Regions from separate parts of the Homo sapiens genome. Here regions 1 and 3 are each linked to region 2. The links come from fine-mapping of genetic effects on gene expression. A gene starts in region 2. Each other region holds a variant in brackets. All regions are shown on one strand. Distances are from middle to middle.

The links.
Region 1: its variant is fine-mapped to the expression of SP100 in whole blood (TOPMed, PIP above 0.99).
Region 3: its variant is fine-mapped to the expression of SP100 in monocytes after LPS (Fairfax 2014, PIP 0.95).

What each region holds. Positions count from the first base shown.
Region 1 is chr2:230,452,770-230,460,769 of GRCh38, reverse strand. The region is part of intron 8 of SP100 (SP100 nuclear antigen); the gene reads right to left. The region is part of intron 3 of LOC101928816 (a long non-coding RNA gene); the gene reads left to right. Among named protein-coding and RNA genes, the nearest start is that of SP100, 41 kb to the right of the region's middle. The variant A/G (reference allele first, on the strand shown) is at 3,176.
Region 2 is chr2:230,410,498-230,421,187 of GRCh38, reverse strand. SP100 (SP100 nuclear antigen) reads right to left here and starts at 4,987. Exons shown (of 29, transcript NM_001080391.2): 1 at 4,860-4,987; 2 at 3,523-3,597. The coding sequence starts at 4,891. RefSeq lists enhancers at 4,821-5,340, 8,633-8,682, 9,343-9,432 and a silencer at 8,983-9,252.
Region 3 is chr2:230,468,256-230,476,255 of GRCh38, reverse strand. SP100 (SP100 nuclear antigen) reads right to left here. Exons shown (of 29, transcript NM_001080391.2): 14 at 7,160-7,213; 15 at 6,158-6,241; 16 at 2,816-2,932; 17 at 1,809-1,862. All of the region lies in intron 3 of LOC101928816 (a long non-coding RNA gene), which reads left to right. Among named protein-coding and RNA genes, the nearest start is that of SP100, 56 kb to the right of the region's middle. The variant G/TTTG (reference allele first, on the strand shown) is at 3,829.

The DNA of each region.
Region 1 (8,000 bases), 41 kb before region 2:
CGCCTGTAGTCCCAGCTACTCGGGAGGCTGAGGCAGGAGAATGGCGTGAACCCGGGAAGCGGAGCTTGCAGTGAGCCGAGATTGCGCCACTGCAGTCCGCAGTCCGGCCTGGGCGACAGAGCGAGACTCCGTCTCAAAAAAAAAAAAAAAAAAAAAAAAAAAAAAAAAAAAAAAAAAGAAACAGATTACCAATACCCCAGACACCTCCTGGTGACACTTCCCATTAACTGTTTCCACTAACTTGCTCAAAGACAACTACCATTGAGGTTTCCAACACTAAGGTTAATTTTGCTTGTTGTGTAATTTATAAAAATGGAATAATCTCTTTTCTCTCCACTCTTTCTTTCTCCCTTTACCTCTCTCTCAATATATATAGATCTCCCAAAAGAAGCCAAATCCCCCAAAATTGTATGGATATTTTACTCAACATGCTTGTGAAAGTCATCTGTATTCGTTTTGTATAATTATTTTCACTACTAGATAGTATTCCATTATAGAAATAAGCCATGAATTATTTATTCATTTGTACAATTTCAAGCATTTGGCTTCTATGAATAATGCTGCCTTGAGCATTCTTTTCTATGTGTTTTGGTGACATAACACACATTTCTGTTGGTTTCTGCTGAGGAATATAATTGTTGGGTTATAGGGTATGTATATTTTCACCTTTGGAAGATTACCCCAAACTGTTTTCCCAAAAGCATATATAAAGGCAGAGATGAAAGAAAGAGAGCTTGGCAAATTCCAGTAAGTAAAGGAAGCTTAGTGTGGTGGGAATGTGGCATGAAAGGGCGAGAGGTGGGTGACGGGGAACGCGCAGGTGCGTGGTAGACATCCTTCAATTCACCACTCCAAGCAGTGTTGATCTACTGCTAAGGGCCACACGAAGGCACTGGGTTTCAAACAGGAAAGTCATATCAACTGGTTTCTATTTTGGAAAAGTCCATTCAACTGAAGTGCAGACTTGAGAGGAGCAAGACTGGGGGCCAGACAGGAGACTGTTCCTCTAATTTTAGTGAGAGTGACAGGGGTCTAGATTAGGGTGTTCGTGCTGGGGATGAAGAGAAATGGACAAGTTAGAGATATTTTAAAGTTGGGATTGACACAAGTGGCAAATGAAATGATGATTGTTTTAAGCCACTAAGTTTCAGGATAGTTTGTTACATGACACAGCAATAGATGACAGATGCAGCTTCCAAAGAGAGATGTTCTTCAGGTCTTTAAATAAAGGTCTTCAGGCAATTGGGGAAGGGAGTCAACAGGACAGGTCTGAGCTGGAGATGTATGTTTAGAAATCAACAGATCTTAGATGGTGATTGAGCCATGGAGAGGAAGTGATGCCTGAGGAGAGGCTTATTGTAATCTGGGGGTGGAGGTGGAGTCACAGGGGCCATTTTGATAAGAGGGCAGCTGATCTTTCTCCATAGTAATAGGACACCCTGTGCCTCCTTTCTAGCTCTTATCTCCTCAGATCAGAGAATGTCTTGATTTGTCTTCTCTCTTCCCTTCTTTGCATGATCCACTCTCTACCAATTTTTCATTCATTGTCCTTTAACTCATTTTCTGCATACTTCTCTTTGTGCCTCCCTCCATTTTTCCTATTTCTTGGTATTTATTTCCCTCTATGTTTTTTCTATTCATAGTCTTTTTATCTACACTTTTTAAAAATTATTGTCTCTTAGAGACAGAACCAGGGTGAGGTGAAGGTGGTGCTATGGGGTGCCTTGAAATTTAAGGAAGCTCAGTCTCACATGCCAAGTGAGGTCTCCTTACATGCTGTGCCCTGGGGGCCTCCCTGCCTCACCTCGTGCCAGGCCTGTTGTCCCATATGTAATGTTGCATCTCTGTTACATTTCCTACCTGCTTTGAGTCGGCCCTTATTTCTTAATTATTAACGTTACCTCTGCAAGCTTCTTCTATGTCACTTTTTTTTCAAAAATACTTTCGCATCTGATGTGTGAGTGCTATATCACTTTTTGTCTTTCTATATCTTCCTCATCTCAAACATTCCCATCATTACGAAAGGTCTCTTCCAGTGCCATTGTCTACCACACCAGAGGCCCTCCACTTGCCATTCCTTCCTGAAGGTCTTTCACCTGGGCTTCCTTCCTTTGCAAATCTGACAAGCAGCATCATGCATAATTTCTACGTTTTCATGATAACTTCTGAAAAGTAACTTGCAACATATTTCTATTCAACAACTCCACAACATGACAATGTATGGATACCATGTCACTTTATCTAAAATCTGTCTCACTCATACACAGTTGACCCTTCAACAACAGGGGCTTGAACTACATGAGTCCACTTGTATGCAGATTTTCTTCCACCTCTGCCACCCCTCAGACAGCAAGGCCAACCCCTCCTCTCCTTCCTCCTTCTCAAACTACTCAATGATGAGGATGAAGGTCTTTATGATTACCTATTGCCACTTAATGAATAGTAAATATATTTTCTCTTCCTTATGATTGTATTAATAACATTTTCCTTTGGAGATCTTACTTCATTGTGAGAATACAGCACATAATACGTATGGAAAATATGTGTTATCATCTGTTTATGTTATCAGTAAGGCTTCTGGTCAACAGCAGTTGTTAAGTTTTGGGGAATGTAAAAGTTATGTGCAAATGTTTGACTGCATGGGGCATTGGTACCCCTAACCTCCCACAGTGTCCAGGGGTCAACTGTGTTTTGTTATTTAATATTCCCTAGTTGACCTCTTTTGTATTCTTTCTTCTTGCATTCTCTAACCAGGGACAGTCCCTCTGTTAAAAAGACTCACTCTCTTTTTCCCTTCCATCTCATACCTGTTAAAAGCAGCCAGAGGCTGTGAACAAAGTCTGTGTGTCTTGGATGAGTGTAGGCAGTTAGTATGAGAAAACAAAGGGAAGTTTTGCCCTTATAGAAAAATAAAGATATAATTAGAAAATTGGGGAGAAGTAGAGCAAGATGGGAGAATAGGACTCTCCAGCCCTCCATCCCCTGCAGAAACACTGATGTGAACAACGACCTATGCATGAAAATACCTTTGCAAGAGCTGAGGAAACCAGATGAAAGATCACAGCACCTGAGTGAAACACAGAAATAAGAAAGAGCACATTGAAAAGGGCAGGAAGAAAAGTTTCACTGTGTCATCTTCCCCAACTCCAGGAAGCACAGCATTGAGCAAGATACA[A/G]TATGCTTGGGGAAAGGAGAAGGAAGTGAGCACCAGACTTTGCCTTACACCCAAACCACAGAACCGACTTCAGTAAAACCCAGCTCCCAAAGCCCCAGACTCTAGCCAGTACCCATGGTCTGAACCTCCAAGCTCACTCTGACCCCAACCTAAATCCTGCAGCCCCAGGACTCAGGCCAGCCCTGCGAACTCAGTCTTCAGCCTCCTACAGCACTATTTCAGCCTCAGTGAACCCATGATCCAGACCAGACCGAGTGCCAAACTGGACCAAGTGGCACTGGGCTTGAGGCCCATCCTAGCAGCAAGCTGGCTTCAATAGCACTGGGCTTCATGCCTACTGAAGTGCCTGAAGAAGCCTGCATCAGTGGTGTAGAGCCCTGCAGATTCTGGCTCAAGGTTTCCCCCAGCACAGACCTGCCCACTGGTTGTCCTAGGCACCAGACTAGCCTGCTTGAGGACTCTAGCAGCAAGCCTGCCCTTGTACCATGCCAGATGGCCATCTTAGAATCTTTAAATAGGGTGAAAGGCTTTCCCAGACAAAGTCAGCCTGCAAAGACTAGAATAGTTTCTACTTTCTCAAATGTACAGACATAAATGTAAGGCAACAAGAAACATAAAAACCAAAGAGACACAACATGACCAAAAGAACACAATAATCTCCCCATAGCAGACCCCAAAGTAATGGAGATAACAAACTGCCTTATGCAGAATTCAAAATAATTGTTTTAAGGAATCTCAGCAAACCTTAAGAAAATATAGGAAACAATTCACTAAAATTAGGGAGACAATAAATGACCAAAATGAGAAAGTTTAACAGAGATATTGAAATTATTTAAAAAATCAAACAAATTCTGGAGCTGAAAAATACAATGAATGAAATTTAAAAAGGCATCAGAGAGCATCAACAGCAGAATTGATCATGCAGAAGAAAGAATATGAACTCAAAGACAGGTTATTTGAAATACAATCAGAGAAGAAAAAGAAAAGAGAATGAAAAGTCATGAAGAAAGCTTACAGGATTTATGAAACACACCAAAAGAGCAAATATTTGAATCACAGGAATTCATAAAAGGGAAGAGAAAGACAAAAGTAGAAAGTTAATTTAAAGAGATAATAGTATAAAGCTTTGCCAATCTGGTGAAAGACATAAATTTCCAGGTACAAGAAGGTCAATGGTCTCCAATCAGATTCAGTGCAAACACGACTACACCAAAACATACTATAATCAAGCTGTCAAGATTCAAGGACAAAGAGAGAATCCTGAAAGCAACAAAAGAAAAGAAGCAACTAACATATGAGGGAGTTTTAATAAGGACAACAGTGGACTTTTTAGCACAAACCTTACAGATAAGGAGAGAATGAGATGAAACATTCAAAGTGCCAAAGGAAGAAAAAGAAACCTGACAACCAAGAATACTTTTCTTGGCAAAGCTGTCTTTCAGAAATAAAGGAGAGATAAAGACCGTCCCGGGAAAACAAAAGATGAATACATTCATTACCACCAGACCTGTCTTACAAGAAATGCTCAAGCTGAAAGAAGTAAATGCTAACTAATAATATAAAAATATAAGAAAGTATAAAACTAACTGGTAAAGTAAATATATAGTCAAAAAATAGTAGCTACAATAATTTTTTAGAGTATACACTATATAAAACTTGTAAACTCTGACATCAAACATTTTAAATGAGGGAGCAAAGTAAAAGTGCAGTTTTTGTAGGCAATCAAAATTAAGTTGTTATCAGCTTAAAATAGCCTGTTATAAGATGTTTTGTGTAAACTTCATGTTAACCACAAAGCAAAAACTTACAGTGATTACACAAAAGATAAAGAGGAATCAAAGTGTATCACTAGAGAAAATCACCTAATCACAAAGGAAGACAGTAAGAGAGAAAGAAAGGAATAAAGAATCTACAGACAACCAGAAAACAATAAACAAAATGGTTTTAGAAAGTACTTACCTATCAGTAATTATATTAAGTGTAAATAAATTAAATTCTCCAATCAAAAGACATAGAGTGGCTGAATGAATTTAAAAATCATGAACCAAGTATATGTGGCTTGCAAGACACTCACTTCACTTTTAAGGAAACACATAGACTGAAAGTGAAAAGATAGAAAAAGATATTTCATGCAAATGGAAATGAAAGAAAGAAAGCACAGGTGTACTTACGTCAGATGAGATACAGTTTGAATCAAATAATATAAAACAAGGCAAAAAAGGTCATGATAAAACCAGGCATGGTGGCTTACATCTGTAATCCCAACACTTTGGGAGGCTGAGGTGAAAGTATTGCTTGAGCCCAGAAGTTTGAGACCTGCCTGGGCAACATAAGGCAATCCTGTCTCTATAAATAACTAAAAAAAATTAGTCAGATGTGATGGTACATGCCTGTCATCTCAGCTACTTGGGGGGATTGCCTGAGCCCAGGAGGTTGAGGCTGCAGCGAGCCATGATTGCACTAGTGCACTCCAGTCTGGGTGACAGAGCAAGACCCTGTCTCCAAAACAAAAACTAAAACAAAAAACAAAAGAAACAAAAAGAAAGAAAGAAAATAAGAAGGTCATTATGTAATGATGAAGGAGTCAACTTATCAAGATGATATAACAATTGTAAACATATGCACCCAATATTTGAGCAACTAAATATATAAAACAAATATTAATAGATCTGAAGGAAAGAGAGACTAATACAATAATACTAGGGGACTTCAACACCCTACCTTCAGCAGTGGACAGATTGTCCAGGGAGAAAATCAATAAGAACACATCAAACTTAAACTATACTTTAGACCAAGAGGACCTAAAAGGCATATATAGAATATTTTATCTACAAGCAGAAAAGTACCATTCTTCTCAATTGTACATGAGACATTCTACAGGATACATCATATGTTAGGCTACAAAACAAGTTTTAACAAAGTAAAGAAGGCTGAAGTTATATCAGATATACTTTCTGACCACAATGATATGAAATTAGAAATCAATAACGAGGAATTTTGAAAAATTTGCAAATACATGGAAATTAAGTACACTCCCAAATAACCAATGGGTCAATGAAGAAATTAAAGGGAAAAAATTTTTTAAATCTTGAGACAAATGAAGATAGAAATGTAACATATCAAAACTTATGGGATATAGCAAAAGCAGTTACAAGAGGGGAAGTTTATAGCAATAAACACAAGAATACATAAAGAAAGAAGAAAGATCTCAAACAACCTAATGTTACACCTCAAGAAACCAGACAAAGAAGAAAAACTAAGGCAAAAATTAGCAGAAAGAAGGAAACAATAAATATCAGATCAGAAATAAATGAGTTCAAAACTAGAAAAAAATGAGATCAACAAAACAAAGCACTGGCTTTTTGAAAAAATAAACAAAATTGAGAAAGCTTTAGCTAGACTAAGAAAAAAGAGAAAACACTCAAATGAATAAAATCAGAAATGAAAGAGGAGACACTACCTTTCTCATACCACATATATACAAAGAATCATAAGACACTGCTATAAACAATTTAATGCCAACAAATTGGATAACCTAGAAGAAATGGATAAATTCCTAAACACACACAGCCTACCAAGACTGAATAACAAAGAAACAGGAAAATCTGAACAGACCAATAATGAGTAAGATTTAATCCATAATAAAATACCACCCACCAAACAAAAGTTCAGGACCAGATGGTTTCACTGTTGAATTCTACCAAATATTTAAGGAACAAATAGCAATCTTTTTCAAACTCTTCTTAAAAATTGAATAAGAGGGACTACTTCCAAACTCATTTTATGAAGCCAGCATTACCCTGATACCAAAGCTAGACATGAACACTACAAGAAAAGAAAATTATAGGCCACTATCCTTGATAAACGTATATGAAAAATCCTCAATAAAATACTATCAAATTCAGTAGCACATTAAACACCATGATCAAATAAGATTTATCACTGGGATGCAAGAATGGTTTAACATATACATATCTAAAGGGTCATACACCACATTAATAGAATGAAGGACAAAAACCATATGATCATCTCAATAGATGTAGGAAAAGCATTTGACAAAATTCAACATTTTTTCATGATAAAAACTCTCAGCAAAATAGATATAGAAGAAATGTATCTCAGGACAATAGTGGCCATACATGACAAGCCCACAGCTAGTACCATACTTAATGACAAAAAACTGAAAGATTTCCCTCTAAGGTTAGAAACAAGAGTAGGATGCTGATATGGTCTTGCTGTGTCCCCACCCAAACTCATCTTGAATTGTAGTTCCCATAACCCCCACATGTCATGGGAAGGACTTAGTGGGAGGTAATTGAGTCATGGGGGCAGTTACCTCAATGCTGTTCTCACAACAGTGAGTGAGTTCTCACAAGATCTGATGGTTTTATAAGGAACTTGTCCCCCCTTTGCACTGTACTTCTCCTTGCTGCTGCCATGTAAAGAAGGACGTGTTTGCTTCCCCTTTTCTGCCATGATCGTAAGTTTCCTGAGGCCTCTCCAGCCATGCTGAACTCTTGAGTCAATTAAACCCCTTTCCTTTATAAATTATCCAGTCTTTTATTAGCAGTGTGAGGATGGACCAATACAGATTGCCCATTCTCACTTCTATTCAACATGTTACTGCAAGTCCTAGCCAGAACAATTAGGCAGGCAAAAGAAATAAAAGGCATTCAAATTGGAAAGGAAGAAGTTTTAAATTGTCCTTATTTGCAGATGACCTGATCTTATATATACAAAATCCCGAAGACTCCACCAAAAAAAAAAAAAAAAAAACTGCTAGAACTAATAAACAAATTCAGTAAAGTGGCAGGATACAAACGCA
Region 2 (10,690 bases):
AATCCAAGCAAATATATAAGAGGGCAATAGTTATTTGTGGGGTCGGCGGGGAGGGGCGGGAGGATGTTGCACAGGAAAGGAAATGTAATCATAATATAGTAGATGACTTGGTTATGAACAACATGTAAATAGTCATCATAATGGTAACACTGATTACTGATGAACCTCCAACTGTGATGTATTATGAGAATGGACAGGGAATGAAAAGGAGTGTTATGGAAAAAGTCTTCATCTTCTGTCCTATTATGTGAACAGATTAATGTCTGAAACTTGAAAAATTACAAAGAGCTGTATCAGCACATCATTTCAAAATACAGAAGTAAATACAAAAGTAAGAGCCAAAAAGTTAATCCATTAGGGAAACTGGACATGGGCTGGGAAGATGGCAGAAAGTACTACTTGTGTTTTTAAAGGTCTTATTGACTGATACTTTAAGCTATATATATATATATGTTTTACTTTGGTGAAATTAATAACCGAATTAATAAAATGTTTCAATATAATTTACTGTGGATAAATCAGATTAAAAGAGAAAAATGATACAATTCTCAAAGATTCTTTAGTAGGCATTTTGATAAATATCCTATACACAGGCCTGATTAAAATAAATAACTTTTAGTAAACCAGAGCCAGCAGGAAATGTCCTTAACTTGAAAAAAGGTGTCTATAAGAAAGCCTCAATTTAAACATTATAAGTATTCCCCTTGAAATCAGGAATAAAACTAAAATGTTCATTTTTACTGTTACTATTCAGTATTACACTGGCAGTCCTGGCTAATGCGCTAAGGCAAAAGAGAAAGAAAAAAGAAAGAAAAAGAAAAGTATACAGGTATAAATTCTGAAAAAGAGGAGACAAAGCTGCTACTATCTTTGAAGATGTAATTATTTCTCCAGAAAAACACAAGACAATATTAAGAGGGAGAAGACCACTTAGTAAGACTCCTATGCACAAGATCAGCTAACTAAAATGAATAGATTTCCCTTATGCCAGCAAGAAATAACTAGAAAATGTAAAAGGAAAATGAATTCCTGTTTACAAATACAATTTTAAAATGCCTAGAACTAAAGCGACCCAACAAGGTCCCAAGTTCAAACAATCATGAATAAATGGAGAGATTTACTATGTTTCTCACTGGGGCCATTCAGGATTTTTTTAAAACATAAATTCTTCCTAAATTTATCTGTTCATTTAGTGTCTCTCAATTCAATCCCAGTAAGGTAGGTTACAGAACACTACCTATAAAATCATAGTAACTAAAACATTTCAGTATTGAAACAAGAATGAAAATAGAACCATGGATCAGATCATGGGTCACCAACGCAAATTCATATGTAAAATTTAGCACACTAGTTCCCTTCTATCCACAGGGGATGCTTCCAAGAACCCCAGTGGATGCTTGAAACCGCAGATAGTACCAAACTCTGCATATACTATGTTTTCCCCAATCTGTACATAAATTAGGCACAATAAAAGATGAATAACAATATCTAATAATAAAGTAGATCAACTATAACAATGTAGTGTAATAAAAATTATGTAAATGTGGTCTCTTTTTGTCTCTCAAAACATCATACTGTAGATATTAACAACCTCAGCATATTATTTTTTTCTTTCAGGAAATTTCACATTTTCACCTAAAGGAAGCCCTTGACGGCTTCTCTTTGGCATATCTGAATTGCCAGCATCAACCTTCTTGTGCTTTGGGGCCATTATTGACTAAAATAAGGGTTCCTTGAACACAAGCTCTGTTATACCAGGACAGTCGATCTGATCACCAGGACAGCTACTCAGCGACTCATGGGCTGGTAGTGTCTACACTGTGGATACCCTGGATAAAGGGATGGTTCACATCCTGGGCAGGATGGAGAGGGACAGCATGAGATTTCATCACACTCCTCAGAACGCCAAGTATCTTAAAACTCATGAATTGTTTTCTGGAATTTTGCATTTAATGTTTTTGGACCAAGTTTTACTGCAAGTAACTGAAATCTCAGAAAGTAAAACTGTTGATAAGGGAGGACTACTTTAGTTAATAATGGCATAAAAATATCAAATATCTATGAAGGAATCTAGCAGAAGGGCAAAACCTTCAGAGAGAAAAATACAAATTTTAATAGGAGACATTTTTAAAGTAATAATATACATAAACCATATTCATGAGATGGAAGTCTCGTGAATGTAAAGATGTCCATTCTCTTCAAATTGATTTATAGATCCAGTGCAGTTCCACACAAAATCTCGAGATTTTGACAGGCAAATTTGGGAGTCTAAGACATTCTGGAGGAAGAGGAAGAGATTTGCTCCCTCAGATGTCAAGAGTTCCTGGGAAGCTGCCATCACTATGGCAGCGTGGTACTGGCATAAGGAGGGGCTGTCACCGGCCAAGGGGAGAGAAGAGAGAACACAGAAGCACACCCTGCCTCTATACTCCCAAAAAGGGTAGCACTGCGAATCAGCAGGGAAAAGGATAATTTAATCAATCAACGGTGAACTCAGAAAAATTGATAAGAATCAAAACAAAGACTTCAAACTGTAGCTCAGACAAAAAACAATTTGATCTCAGATAAAACAGGGAATGTTAAAAAAAAAAAGAAAAAAAGTTCATCCAGATTATGACTAAGCAAACGGGAAGTTTGGGGTGACCTGCCCTGGCCAAGCCTGGCTAGAGGAGCTGTAAAGCCACCACAGGCACGTGGAACACAAGATCAGACAGAATCAGTCTGGAAAAATAACTAAGAGACAACAAGGAGAATATCCCAAAGTTCTTAACAGCACAGGCAAACCTAAATAAAGCAAGACTGTGAAGACTGAATGACAAGAGGTTATGGAGCTTGCAGGCGTACAGAAACCAATTAAGATCCCTCCTCAAAAATAAACACTATCAATTTTTAAAAAATTAGAAATGACAAGAAACAAGAAACCTACTAGAAGGTAAATAATTGTCATGGAGGAAAAGTTTGAGACAACTATTATGAACACAAAGTGAAAGACTGAAAAGATGAAAACGGGGCAAATAAAAGCTGTGAAGGCTAAAGTGGCTCCAATGTAAGAATATTTTTGTTTAAAAATTTAAAAAATTTTCAGAGATATTAGAGGAGGAACTCTTCCTGGAATAGCGGTAGCAGCGAATCTGCCACCTTAACACAGAAATAATTGTAAAAACTAAGAGTGCTCACAGAGGGTGTCAGCATCACCTCGTTTATAACAAGGGTGCATCTATCTTAAAAAAATCTGTATCACAAGAGGCCTATATGTTAAGTTTTAAGCTTTAATAAGATAAAAGTCACCATAGACAAAGGTAATGGACAAGAAAAGTATATTTATACTTACAGAATATTTAGTGAATTCTCCCATATCACGAAAAAAAGGACAAACACCTCAACGGAATCATATTGGCAAAAAACAAACAAGCAATTTATAGAAGAGGGAATTTAAATGGCCAAGAAACATGAAAAGCTGATCAATTTTCCCATCGTAAGGAAAATACAAATTAAAACAAGACATAACTCTTCATTCATCACCTTTGCAAATCGTGGCTGTGTGCAGGAAGATGGTTCATCTCATTTGCTACTGGTGAAATACATTCATTCAGCCTCCTAGAAAGACAATTTGGCAGGACCAAGTAAATAACTGGACCCTTTGCCTCAATAATTACATTTTTAAGGTTTAGAGACAAGATAAATATTTGTTTAGATGTAAAAACCCAAAAAGAAATATATAATCATTGTTATGATAGCTTATTGGTAAATGTGAACAATTTAAAAACAATCTAAATGTCCTTCAATTGGAGAATAAATAATTATCATATATCAATTCTATGGAATAGCATGTATAAAAAGAATGAGGCAGATCTATATGTATTAAGGTTAAAAGATCTCTAAGTTTTCCACTATTAAAATAAGTAAAAATGCAAAATGCAGACTAGCACATGTAATATAATTTATTATAAATCAAGAACATAAATTACGTATTTACAAAAAATGCATTAGATATATAAATGCATAGAAAAATATAAGAAAAGCTGTGCCCAAGACTCTTCACAGGACTGGGAAGAGAAGCTACAAGAATGGCTGAGTGGCAAAGATGACTTTTTCCTTAATATACTTCTCCACTGTTTTAAATTTTATGAACAATAATGTACAGTGTATTTCTTTTGTATTAAAAAATTTAAAAGATTAAGTAATGTTATTTCTCAACTCACTACTAGAGAAAAGTTAGGATTTCCTTCTCTTTTCTGGTCAGAGGTATCCCCCATCTTGGGACAGGAAATTGAGGTAAAAATGAAAATATTTAGCCGTTTGTCACCCTGGGCCTTTTTCTTCCCTTTCCTTCTTTTGATCAAGGTTGATGGAATAAGAACTCAGACCCTGAGCCAGTCATGGGAACAGCCGGCAGAGGCCCCTTGCCAGGACAGGTGAGACCACAGCGTCTGATGTTTAAAAGTAAGCCAGGTGTTTACCCTGGAGTGTTTATTTTCTAAAGCACCTTTTTTGACATGACATATTTGAAGGTAGAGGAAGGCTGAGGGGTGAAAGGGTTCACAGATCATGAGGAAATAGTTAATCCCAGCCACCAACAACTGCTATGTTTAGAGTGTCCCGGTCAGCTGAGCAGTAAATCCAAAACAAGAAAGTCACGTGTGTTATGGCAAGTTGAACTCACACCAACAGCTGTCCTGCTCCTGTTTAAAAAATCTGATTTCCTCATTACTTGTCTTTCATTTCATTATATAACATCGCATACCTATGTTCTTGCAAAGAAGGATTAAAGTGAAGCCTTAGGCACAAACTGAACTAAAGGCATGAAAGCTGCAATATAGCCAGAGATAAAGGTTAAAGGAAGGGAGATAAAGACTCACCTGGTGCTCAGGTCGCCGCCCCCACCTGCCATCTTCCCACCCTAGGCCCTGCGTGGGCCTCAGAGCCTGGCCTCTGAGCCCCTCAGTCGGCCCAGCCTGCGTGCAGTGTGGCTGCCCAGGCCCCAAGCAGGAAGTCGGCCGACAGACTGACTCAGAAAGGGCTCCGCCCAAATGGGGAAAAGAGAAGTGAAAGTATTTAACCTCCTTCTGGGCTACGGACACTGTGTTTCTCCTCCTTTTTCACTCCAAGGGATTCTCAGCTTTTCTGAAATGTGGCAGAGGGTTGGAGGAGAGGCCTGACAAGCAGCAAGACCTGCAGGACCAGGGAAGGAGGGCCCAGGGGACGAGCAGGGCCAGCTCCCGGGTGTCCACTTGTTTGTGCAATACACAGCCAAAAAAAATGTCCTTGAAACAAAATTGTCCTTAGCTGCTCTGCCCTCTAAGAGGGGGCATAGTTTACATGGGAGTTGGGGGGGAAACTCCATGTTTGCCCCTTCCCCTTGCTGACATGGCTTGGGGTGGGAGTTGGAGGGTTGGAGGGAAAGCCAGAAACCTCAAATCTTCTCTCAGGCCCATGGGAGAGCATGGACTGGACTAAGGTAGGTCCTGACATTGGGACCCAGGGCTGGAGAGAACCAAAATGCTCAGCATTATAACCTGGGGAGAGTGTGCTTAGCCTTCCTGGAAATCAGCCAGAAGTAAGAGAGAACTCTCCACACCCCTGGGACCAGAGGCTGGAGCCAGCATGGTAAGAAAGGCAAACATTTTAAGGGGCAAGGGTTTAAGGAATCTTGACTATGGGGCCGCCTTGGAACAGCCAGGGGTGAAGAGACACCTAAGCTTCGGAGAAGTCACTGGAATCTTGAGAGAACAAAAGCTTCTCATTGGAGGAGGATGGAGGTTGGAACCCAGATGATCTAGACATGGAAGGGCAGGGTGGCTCCCGCGGGAGGTTCTATCTCTGCCCAGATTTTCCATTTAGATTCTGATTCATCATTCCTCAGAGAACAAGAAGCGACCGAGAAGACTCGCTTTACATCAGTATAAAGTCATAGGTAAAGAAACAGAAGCAAAGGGCGCATGAGAATGGGGCCACAGGACACAACCAGGGACCAGAACTCCAGGCCGGACCATGGGGCAGAGACAGGGAGGCAGCTGGGAGCCTGGGGGCGCTGGAATCCAGGGCCCAAGGTGAGCAGAGGGTGGAAGCTGGTGAGGATTCAGGGGCCAGAGGGGATGGCACTTCAGAACGGTGTTTTCCAAATGGCATTCTACTGAATCCAACTTCTTCCAGCTGTGAATAAGGATGCTTGTCCAGGTACATTTGAAAATGTGGGGGAAGGGGCTTTCTACCCTCACTCTACTTCTGCTCTTCTTTTCCCCATGAGTGAATGACCAGGCACCAGGACATTGGTGAGGACAGCTTTGCCGGTGGGCGAAGGTCACTGTTTCTATCAGGCACTGCACACCTGTAGGTCTCTCTCTCTTTCTCTCACCTGTAGGTCTCTCTCTCTTTCTCTCATTCTTCCTACCCCCCATGACTCCCCGACTTTATGGGGCTGAAGGGCTGGTAAGCTGAGCCTCTTTTGGGCACAGCTGTCCTTTGATCCCAGTCTCCATGAGGCACATTGGTCCCAAGAAGTCCTGGCATGGACCACACAGTATGCTTTGGTGTGGTTCACGTTCTCCCCTCTCGCTGCCTCTGGGCAGCAGGCAGGCTCAGGCCATTGAGTGGCACTGACATAAACGTGCCAGCTTTTCCCTGGATGTGCTTAGGGGCTACTAAGAGCAGCACCTGGAATTCCAGACCAATGAGCCACAGGCTGGCAGGGAATTCCTTACGGGTTGAACTTCACGGGCAGACATGCCCATGCTGGGGCACCTCCTGGCAGCAGGGAAGGAGATGTTCTCATCAGATGAGGTTGGAGACAGATGAGCATGCACCATGCTCCGCTGGTATATGGAGAATCTGTAGGCCTCTGTGAAGAAAGCAAAGTTTCTCTGATCCAGAAAACAATGTCAGACACACTGGGGTTGGGAAAGGGACGGGACCACATTAAGAAGACATGTGAGCTAAAAATCCTGCTGGACTGTTTAGAAGGAAATAATGGAACTCCTGGGGCATTTTCCATGGCTGCAAGGAGCACAGGCAATAGGGAATATTTCTGTTGTCAAGAAGTAGTTCCAGTTACTGGAGCCTGGAAAACTCAAAAGCAGGGGAGGCAGTGATTGAGGAAGGACCACAGGCAGGGCACCCAGCCAGATGATGGGCCTCTTACATTTCACCAAGAGCAGCTTCAGTTCAGACTTCAGTGGTGTGGGTGAGGCAGGAGAATAGGGTCTGGAGGCAGGGAACCTAAGGCCATTTCATGCTAACTTCCTAGAACTAAATTGAAAGGAAAACCCTAACTTTCCATGCCTAAGTAACAAAAGGTCCAGAGGCTACTCCCTTTGCAAACCCCCACCTTTTCTGTGGGGCAATGGGAAATGGAAAGTACCTGTGTATAGTTGTTTTTTGCATAGGAGTGTAACTTTGTAACTTTACTTCAGCCTCTGATGGGTTGCTGTCTGCAACCAATCAGACTGATTGCAGGCCAAGTCTTCCTTTGCATAGAAGTACAACTTTGTAATTTCACTTTAGCCTCTGATTGGTTGCTTTCTGCAACCAATGAGATGTTTGCACAGGAGTGTGACCTTTGTAACTTCACTTCAGCCTCTGGTTGGTTGCTTTCCTCAACCAATCAGACTGATTGCAGGCCGCCACTTCATTTACATGAGGTGAGCACCAAGTGGTCAATGGGAAACCTCCAGGGGGTATTTGGACCAGAGAAGATTCTGTATGCGGGACCGTTGAATACTGCTTGGGCCTGCTCCCACACTGTGGAGTGTACTTCTATTTTCAATAAATCCCTGCTTTCGTTCTTTTGTTGCTTCATTCTTTTCTTGCTTTGCTGTGCGCTTTGTCCAATTCTTTGTTCAAAACGCCAAGAACCTGGACAACTTGCAGTCAAGACCCTCTACTGGTAACATGGTGGGGGGTGATTCTTCAACCTGGGACCCCCATGTGAGAACCAGAGGTCTGTACCTGAGATGAGGTCATTGGCATCATGGACCAGAGAGTTTCAGGGCAGGAGGCAGCTACAGGAACAGTGCCACTGGGGCATGAGAATAGAGAACCTGGCCACCCTCCAAGGGACGTAGAAGTGACGAGTGAAGGGCAGGCGCCTGGGATCTTTAGTGGGAGCACCCAGTCCTGCCGAACTGTCTCCTTCTAGGAGGTGGAACATCAATCAGTCAAGGCCCGGTCCCTTCCGGTCCCCGCCCATCTTCTAGGGGACGCTTCTCTGACTGGGAGTGGGAGTGAGCCTGCTCTTTGCTGGGTGTCCCTGGAGTCATCCTGCCTGCAGAGACCAAGACTCTGTTGGCTCCTCCAAGCTCAAGTGCACAAGGACAGGGGCCTGCATAGCGTGGGGGAGAGTTGGAACAGCCTGAGGCCATGCGGATAAGCCCAATTCTGGAGTTCAGTGTTAGGGGTCCCTTTACTGCCACATATCTAAGCCACATCCCCAATCCAGCTTTTATCCGGAATAAAGCTGGTATTTTGATCGCCGTCTGTCTCTCCATTTTGCCTATATTTCAAAGGGTTCAAGCACATGGGTATACATCTCTCTTCTGAGGTTCTTTTCTATCTGTGCCGCAGATGGGTAGAGGCTGGGGTCATAGCTCCTTGCAATTGCATGATTGTGATGCAATTATCCCCCGGGCTCAGCGGGCATTTGGTAGCAATATTTCAGCTTTTAGGAAGTTGGGTGAGACCAGGCTGGTCTGATCCTCCCTGGCCCACTCACCAGGGTCCCCTGCTCAGCAGAGCCTCAGTGACTGGCCTAAAGAGGCTATGGGTGAAGGATTGTAGGGAGTCAGAAAGACAAGGGGAGCATTGGACAACACAGGAAGTCCCTCTGGCCACCTTCTGAAGGTGGGGACCATTCATGAGAAATCCGGAGGACGCCCTCAGTCCTTGTGCAGCACCAGGAAGAAACCGACTGGCCCAGGGCCACCCCTGAGTCCGCATCATCACGCAGGGTCCTTCAGCTGAGCCCCTGTTGTATCCGCAGATGAACATCCGCAGATCCCTGTCCCCTGGTAACTGACGGACAGCACAGGGTCCTGGTGGCCCATGGACGCCACCTCATGCCTCCTTTCCGAGGCCACCTAGCCGGCGAGGCCCGCCACGGACACACCGTGAGCACGCGCAACGAGCAGGGGTCGGTGATCGCCATCCCCCGTGTCCGCCTCCCGCGTTCCCGTTCCCGCGGCCGCCCCGCGCTCCTCCGGGCTCCGCCCCCGCCCGGCCGGCGCCCAGTCTCCCGGCAGCGCGTAGCGCTGCAGCCTCTTCAGGGCTGGGCAGAAACAGAAACCGAAAATCCTCCTCTTATCGGGATTCTAGCTCACCAAACACTTCGAATTGTGTGGTAGAAGAGCCGTAGTTCCTTCTAAATAAAGTCGAACCCATGTAAGGTCTGGGTTCTGAGATCATTTTGCCCTCTGGCAGCTCACGAGCACCACCGGGTCGCCGCCTGCCCTCTGTTCAGCCCGTGAGGGGCGGGGGACTCTGCCCTTCGCTCCTCCTGGTCTCTGTCCTCTTCCCTAAGAGTTTCATTCCGTCCGGAGCCACAAGCCGCCCTGCCTTCTGCACCTCCCCGGAGGCTGAAGCCCTTAAGCCTGCCCCGCACCCTAAGGCCCTGCAGGACACTCCTGCTGTCCTTGCGGGGCACACTGATATGACTCGATGCTGAGCAGTTGAAAGGATTAAAAAATAGTGGGCAAACGGCAAAAACGGGTGGCATGGAGTGAATTAGAAGACACGAGACTTCAGAGAAGTGCGTTTCATGCACAGAAGTTTGTCAATGCCCCCCACCCCGAAACCCAGTCTCCCTGAGTGAGGGAGAGGGGGCTTCACCTTCCCTTTCGTTTCACTTTGAGCCCCAACTGCTGGACTGCAACAGAACGACCCTACAGGCTCACTATGTTTCACATTCTGGGGATTCCTGGTGGCACCTTCCTGTGTTCACCAGTGGGTCCCCGTTAGACTTGGGGCTGTCACCTGACATATGGAACCAGGCAGCTCCATGTTGGATGCCTCCACAAGCATGGAACTAAGGCTGCGGGGTCAGACCTACCCTCAGAAAGGAGGAGGAATGTCTTTCGAGCTGTGGTCGGCCTGGGGTCTCCTTGTGAGCCTCAGGGTGCCAAGGAGGCAGGGCTGAACACCACCAGGAGCGGAGGGAGCCTGGTGGCTGGGGCTGGAGCCAGGAAAGGCTTGAATGAACAATGCAGCCTTTTACCAAGTCTGCACTCCTAATGTTTCTGCAAACCTCCATATGTCTATTACTTTTACCATGGTGAGCTGGAATGGCCCGCAGACTGTCCTAGATCTTAGGACTGCCAGGTGATGCATGTGTGGCGAGGGAAGGAGATACCTGGTGGCCCCTCCAGATGGTCTCCACCAGCACCTGCTGGGCAGCAGCTTCTGCTTCTTTGGGCTTGCAAGTGGGTGCTTCTATGAAGAGGAGGGTCCCTGGCAGGTTCCTCAGTATTGCTGAACAGAATAAAGGAAGCGCAGGGTTGGAAAGTGTAGCTTCATGAAGATTTAGTGGTTACGAGACAGGTTATGAGACAGGAGGTACAGTTCCAGCAAAGGCCAATGCCCATCTGCCAACCATTGTCTGGCGGAGATGTGCAGGGAAGGGGTGGAGTCTGCCTTTCCACAGGTGCTCCTCCTGGAAATGTGGGTGGGAGACAGCTGACCAGAGCACTGGGGGGCTCTCCCA
Region 3 (8,000 bases), 56 kb before region 2:
GAGGTGAAAGATATCTACAAGAAGAAGTACAAAACACTGCTGAAAGAAATCAGAGATAGCACAAATAAATAGAAAATTATTCCATGCTCATGGATTGGAAGAATCAATACAGTTTGAATGACTATACTGTTTAAATCAATTTATAGATTCAACACCATCCTTATTAAAATAAAAGCGTCATTTTTCACAGAATTAGAAAAATCTATTCTAAAACTCAGTTGGAACCATAAAAGAGCCTGAATAGCCAAAGCAATTGTAAACAAAAAGAACAAAGCTAGAGGCATCGCGTTGCCCAACTTCTAACTATACTATAAGGCTACAGTAATCAAAATGGCATGGTACTGGTACAAAAACAGACACATAGACCAGTGGAACAGAACAGAGAACTCAGAAACAAACCTGCTCACTTACAACCATCTGATCTTCAACAAAATCAACAAAAATAAGCAATGGGAAATGGACTGTCTATTCAATAAATGATGCTGGAATAACTGGCTAGACATACGAAGAAAAACGAAACTGGACCCATACTTCTCATCCTATACAAAAATTAACTCAAGATGGATTAAAGATTTAAATGTAAGACCTAAAACTATAAAAATCCTAGAATAAACCTAGGAAATACCCTTCCTGACATAGGCTTTGGCAAAGAATTTATGGCTAAGTCTCCAAAAGCAATTGCAACTCAAACAAAAACTGACAAGTGGGACCCAGTTAAACTAAATAGCTTCTGTACAACAAAAGAAATTACCAAAAGAGTAAACAGACAGCCTTCAGAATGGGAGAAAATTTTTGCAAACTGTGCATATAACGAAGGTCTGATATCCAGAATCTACAAGGAACTTAAACAAATCAACAAGCAAAAAACAAAATCCAATTAAAAAATGGGCAAAGGACATGAACAGACACTTCTCAAAAGAAGACATACAAGTGGTCAACAAACATGAAAAAAATGCCCAACATTACTAATCATCAGATAAATGCAAATCAGAATCACAGTGAGATACCATCTCACACTACTCAGAGTGGCTATTATTAAAAAGTCAAGAAAATAACAGATGCTGGTGAGGTTGTGGAGGAAAAGGAATGCTCATACACTGTTGGTGGGAGGGTAAAATTAGTTCAACCATTGTGGAAGACAGTGTGGCAATTCCTCAAAGACTTAAAGACAGAAATGCCATTCTACCCAGCAATCCCACTACCTTTAGGTATATACCCAAAGGAAAATAACTTGTTCTATCAAAAAGATACACGCACTCATATGTTCCTTATAGTGCTATTCACAAAAGCAAAGACACGGAACCAATCTAGTTGCCCATCAACAGTGAATTGGATAAAGAAAATGTGGCACACATATACACCATGAAATACTATGCAGCCATAAAAAGAATGAAATCACACCCTTCGCAGCAACATGGATGGAGCGGAGGCCATTATCCTAAGCAACTTAATGCAAGAACAGAAAACCAAATACTGCATGTTCTTACTTACAAGTGGAAGCTAAACATCGAATACACATAAATGTGAAGATGAGAACAAGAGACACTGGGGACCACTAGATGGGGCAGGGGGAGAGGGTGGCATGGGCTGAAGAACCATCTGTTGGGTACTATGCTTACTGCCTGGGTGATGGGATTTTTGGGACACCAAGCCTCAGCATCACACAATTTACCCATGTAACAAACCTGCAAATGCACCCTTTAATCTATAATAAAAGTTGAAAAAAGAAAATGATGATAATAAACCTTAGCATTAAAAAATAGTTCATTTGTAACATAAAAATTAAGTAAATTCTTATTTGTTCTTACTTCTTTTCCCACTGTGTTTTTCCAAAGTAGAATTGTTTTCAACATCCATGGTATCTAGAAAGTGACAGGTAGTGGTCAGAGAACTGTAATTTATAAGTAAAATTTATAAATCTTATGACAATTCACACTGCATGGAAGGCTTGCGTTTATAACAATATTCTGAGTATAATTTATCTGTCTTCCTTCCAAAGGAAACAGACACTGAATTGATGTCTAAGGTCTTCGTCTAGTTCTCTGAGACTTTGAAACAGCTCTTCATTACTTTTATGCACCAATTTCCTCATTTATGAAACAGGGACAGCAACGGTTATCCTGTTCAGCTTTAAAATTTTTATGAATATTAAATATCTTACTTGCAAGAGTTAATAGGAAATCACTATATAAATCAATAACAGTCCAGAGGATATCTTTCAAAACAATGTATTTTTAGCATAAGAGTAGGTATCTGATTTTTCTTTCCTGACAGGTAGCAGGACTATTTGTCTTTTTAGGCCTTTCCAAAGTTGTGACAAAATGACACTATTACCTGTGAGTGGAAGAACATGTTTTCTTTTTTTTTTTTTCAAGAACAAGGATGGAACTCGCTTTATAAATTCAACACTTTACTATTGATATGCTAATATAGTGAGATACTACTATGTTTACCAGTGTATTTTTTTACCACCTAACCAAGAGAGCCCATTCTGTTAAATATGGCTTTATAATGATCTCTTGCCTCCCTGCAGTTCCCAAAAGGGTCGGGTTAAGCAAATGTAGAGAACAGGATTCTGGCGGCACCAAACCTGTTCTTTGTCACAGTCTGCTCACAGTCAAGTGCAGCAGGAAACCGGGACTATGATTTCAGACTTTTGAAATTCTGAAGCTTGGGGCCTGTGGGCCCACTTCCTGTTGGTGATCCAGAGGCTGTTTCATGCTTTGCTTCAACTCTGATCACTTCCCACATCCCTACCCAGTGTCTGTGATATCCACTGAGCCACTTCCATCCCAAGACCCTAGGGTAGCCTTACCCATCATGTCAGATGCTTGACTACTTTCAGTCCTTGCTTCTTGGCTTCTTGGCACACCTTTTGGAAAACACATGACACAGGAGCACTTCTTATTTTCAGGTTCTTGTGGCTGTGATCCTAAATTGTGATTTGTAAACATTTTTATTTGTGCCCACTCCCCTTCAAAGATTCTCCTTCCCCCCAACATTAGTGACTGCCCACTCCCCACAGCTAAATTAAGGGATGGGCTCTACATCTGAAATCTCTTTTTCTTTTGTGGTTCCTCACTGTATTTTTCCCTTCTGTTCATAAATAACCCTGAGAATTTCATCTTGAAATAAAGGGTCAATTAATAGTTTGTTTCAGTGATGAAGAACACTGGAGGAGCAAAGGCTGGTTTTAGGGAAAAAGATGATGTGCTCAGTTTTGGAGGTGTTAAGTTTGAAGGTCTTGAGTAACATCCAAGTGGTGAAGTCTAAGGCCTTCAGAATCTCCAACAGGAGCCTTCTGACACTTGGATGAATGAGTTTAGAAGACAGGGCTGGCTGGAGATACACATGTAGGAATCATGAGGTTGTGGGTGGTGACTGAAATCACAGGAGTGGATGAAATGCCTGGGTGAGGCCTTTTTTAATCTGGGTGAGTCAGAGGGGCCAGGGGACACCTTATTCTGAAAACTTACTGCTATTGTGAATCATGCCTTGTGCTAAAGTTGCTTTTATCTCATGGTCATTTCAGATCCTACAATTTCTCCATCATTCTCTTCTCTCCCATTTACACTTCCCCCTTCTTGCCTCCATTTTTCTCTCATCTTTTAATTCTTTCTCTACATACTTCTTGTTGTACCTAATTTTTTACACCACTCATCACCCTTTGAATGTATCTCATTCCACCTGTTTTTCTGTTTATATCTTTAGATCTAGTTTTATTATTGAGGTGAACTTCTTTCTACTATCACTTCCTCCTTCTATTCTCTCTTCTAGCTTGTTTCTCTGAATCTTGTCTTGACTTTTTTTTTTTTTTTTTTTTTTTTT[G/TTTG]AGACGGAGTCTTGCTCGATCGCCCAGGCTGGAGTGCAGTGGTGCGATCTTGGTTCACTGCAAGACCTGCCTCCAAGGTTCACGCCATTCTCCTGCCTCAGCCTCCTGAGTAGCTGGAGCTACAGCTGCCTGCCACCATGCCTGGCTAATTTTTTTTGTTTTTAGTAGAGATGGGGTTTCACCGTTTTAGCCAGGATGGTCTTGATCTCCTGACCTCGTGATCCGCCCACCTCGGCCTCCCAAAGTGCTGGGATTACAGGCATGAGTCACTGCGCCTGGCCCTTATCTTGATCTTGACTCTTTTTGCAATTTCAATCTTTGTCTTTATCCACATTTTCTTCATCTATATTCATCTTTATCTCACAGGTTATTACTTTCATCACCAAATGCCTGCTGTTAGGACACTGACCACATAGCCATCTCTATTACCTTTGTCTGTTCTTTATGAGCTTTCTACCTTGCAAGGCTGTCAATCAATCAGCAACTTTATTTTCACGTTTCTGGTACAATTTCTGAGAAGTGTGTTGAAAATTATCCCTCCCTCCCCCACAAAATTCCCCTACCTGGAATATTTGAATTCCTTGTCCACTTAGAAAAACTTGAAGCTGACTCTTATATCTTTTCATTTGGTGACTCTAGCCTACCTTTCTCCATTCTTTCTCCTTACTTTATCCACTCAGTGTCTCCTCCCTCCATTCAGGAGCCCAGCTCTTCTTTTTCTTTTCGCTCCCTCAAACCTGTCGCAAGCAGCCCGAGTCTGTGCACAAGTCTTTGTGTGTGTGGTGTGTATGTGTGTGTGCATATGTTTTGGGGGAGAGGTAAGGAAAAGAAAAAAGAACTTTTCCTCCATGCAAGTAGGAAAAAAAAGATAATTAATAATGAACTGAACATCATAATCGGCTTCTCCATCACAAGCTAATGGGCTGCATCTCTTCTGACTCTCTTTGTGTATTCATTGGAGGAGCTCTAAATTCACAGGACAATGAAGACAAACAAGGAAATAATAGACTATAGACAGTGACGAGGAAACCAGGGAACCTGTCTCAATGTGGTCATGCTGAACTATTTTCAGAGCTTAAACGGACTGACAAAAAAATACACCTATATCAATGAGTACACCTCATAGCCCTACTCTATCTGGCCACACTTCGTTCTCCTTCTCACTTCTCATTTTTCTGCCCATTGCCCTGCTGCTATACATTTTTGTCTCTGTCTCTTTGATTCGGTGAGCTCATCTCCCTTTGATTTATCTTGTCTCCTGTGTTGCTTTTTCTGTTTCCATCAATGATGTTCTGTTCTCCTTTATTTCTATGTTTATCTATTTTGCTTCTGTCTTTCTAGGTATTTTGTATATTATATAGCTGGTTCCATTCCTATTATCTCTGTCTGTTTGCGATTTTTATTTTTCCCTCCCCCTAAAGATTATATGTATTAACCAATATACATATATACACACACATATGTGTGTGTTTATGTATGTATACATGTTATATGTAACAAATATATGCATGTGTACACACACACACACACACAGTGGTTGTTAAATAAGCTTTCTTGCATCAGGCACTGGTATAGTCTCCTGTGAATATTCTGAGTTCCTTGCGCATCTTCTTTGGACTTTGACTTAAATGACACAGCTCTTATCCTCCTGTCTGTTACATACAACAGTCACCCACCGTGAGACACCTGGGTTGCTAGTTTCTATTGTTTCTTTAGTTTTTTGGCCCTAATACTTCTGTACATCTATTTCCTCACCCCAAAATGGGTATAGTTAGCCTGCCTATGTCTTAAAAATTTTGTGATGACAAAATAAGATATTATTTGCCAAAAGACATTGAAATAACACAATATAATCCAATTACATGATGAAGGACATCTACCAAAAACTATACTAACGTTTGAGAGTGTTTGATCTGAAGTTTTTATTTCTGTCTATAATTACATAGTAGGAACAGTTGTCTTTTGAGGCTTTACAATTACAAATGACAATGATGTCAACCCATTTATCACTATAAAAATCTAAGATCTTAGTGTTAATAGGAATGAGAGCAGGTTTAAAAAAAAGAATACCACAAATTTGCTATTTATTTCTTCTACAACAACAAAATATAATTACATACATTTAGTCAGTGAAACTCTTTCTGTTAAACATGAGTTTATCATAATTTCCTGCCTCTTTCCATTTTCTAAAATGCAAAAAGGAGTTCCCAGATGAACTGGATACAAGGTAGTGAAGGTGCTCAGAATAAAAAGCGTCTGGAAACAGCAGCTTTTAATTCACATTCCTGACATTCTGCAGGCCAAGTCTTGGCATCCTAATCTTCTTTACCTGACCCTCTTCTTAGGGATGAGCTGCAGGTTTCCTGAAGCTCTTCTCCATTACTCAGGTCTGAAAAGTCACTACTGCTGAAACCTGCAGAAAAAAATAAAATTCCTTAACAGTCTTAGTCTGAGTCTTAGGAATCAGCAGGGAATTCTTTAAAAGCAAAACTGAACAAGAGAAGCTTGTGGAGGAGGGGGAGAAATAGTCCCACCACTAGGCCACCCTTTGGCTTTGATCATCTGACCTGTTGGTCAAGATTGCTCCAGGAGCCCTCTCTGAGGCTGGGGCTGGGGATGACATTGTTTCTTCTTCTTTTTTTTTTTTAACTTTGGGAAAAATATGTATTTATTATAAATCATCCATTTCATTGGGTGGTTTCAAATTAAGAAAGCAATATATGCTTGTCATAAGAAGACCAATGAATGCAAATGTATATAACCCCAAAGCTCTCTTTTCCTACCCTATTCTGTCTCTGGTCTCCCAGCTAGTGAAGTCAACAGATCAGTGTGGATCCTTCCATCGTTTTCTCCTATCTCATTCATGCATAATCAAATAAAAGGAACATACATAATGTTCAATCTTTTCTGAATACAATCCTAGGACAACGTTGTTTCTTACGCTTCTTAGGCTTTCATTATTAGTTTGCACATACTTCTGCTTCCATCTCAGTTTCTTATCCAAGGGAACCATGGAAGCAACATCTTAAAGATGTCAGAGCCCCCATCAGCTGGGCCCTGAATGACTGTGTGGGCACCCCCTCTACTCAGGAACTACTTTATCCTATTTATGTGAGTGAAAAATAAACTTATGTTGCACTTGTGCCTTTGAACATTTTGAGGCTTATGTTTTATACCAGCCCAACTCATCTAATTGAAAATGTAAAATGCAAATCATCTAAAATCCCAACAAATTAATTTTTTATTTTAAAGGATATAACATAAAAAGTGAATGTAGCTTTTGCAGCAAATAAAGACATTTGTTACATCAAGAGTTTTTAATTGCTCTTACGTCTCTTCCTGCTGGGTATTCTCCAAGTAGATGTACTTCTAGAAGTCATAGGAGCTAGAAAGTAAAGGAAAACCAAATCAATAATATCTAACTAAAAGATCTATAAATCTTATGACTGCTTACACTGTTGACAGAATTTGGACTATAAATATTCTATGAGGATCATTTCTGTCTCTTCCCATCTAAGGGAAAGAGATTACTATCAAATGGAGCACAGACCCACAATCCTTTAGCCCTAATTGCAAAATCAATGACTTTTTTTTTTTTTTTTTTTTTTTTGAGACAGGGTCTCACTCTGTCAGCCAAGCTGGAGGGCAGTGGTGCAATCTTGGCTCACTGCAGTCTTGACCTTCCAGGCTCAAATGATCCTTCCACCTCAGCCTCCCACATCACTGGGACTACAGGCATGCACCACCACCATGCCCAGCTAATTTTTTGCATTTTTTGGTAGAAATGGGGTTTTGCCATGTTGCCTAGGCTGGTCTTGAACTCCTGGGCTCAAAAGATCCACCTGCCTCAGCCCCTCAGCCTCCCAAAGTGTTGGGATTATAGGCGTGAGCCACCACACCTGGCCTCAAAGATATTTTAATAACCAGTATTGTTTTCATAGGTTTGCAGCTAACTAATTTGGCAGTGAATCTGGACTTGAGTTGCCATGAGTCCGTGTAAAATCTTATCATATTTGGTGTGAATATTTATATAATTTGCTGTATAAACATTAGTATATTTGAGAATGGGATTCTTCCCTGGATCCTACTAGGGTATTTTGTTGTATATAGAATATAAACCACATTGTCTTTCTAAAATAATAAAACATTTTTTGAACTTTGAAGTACATCTG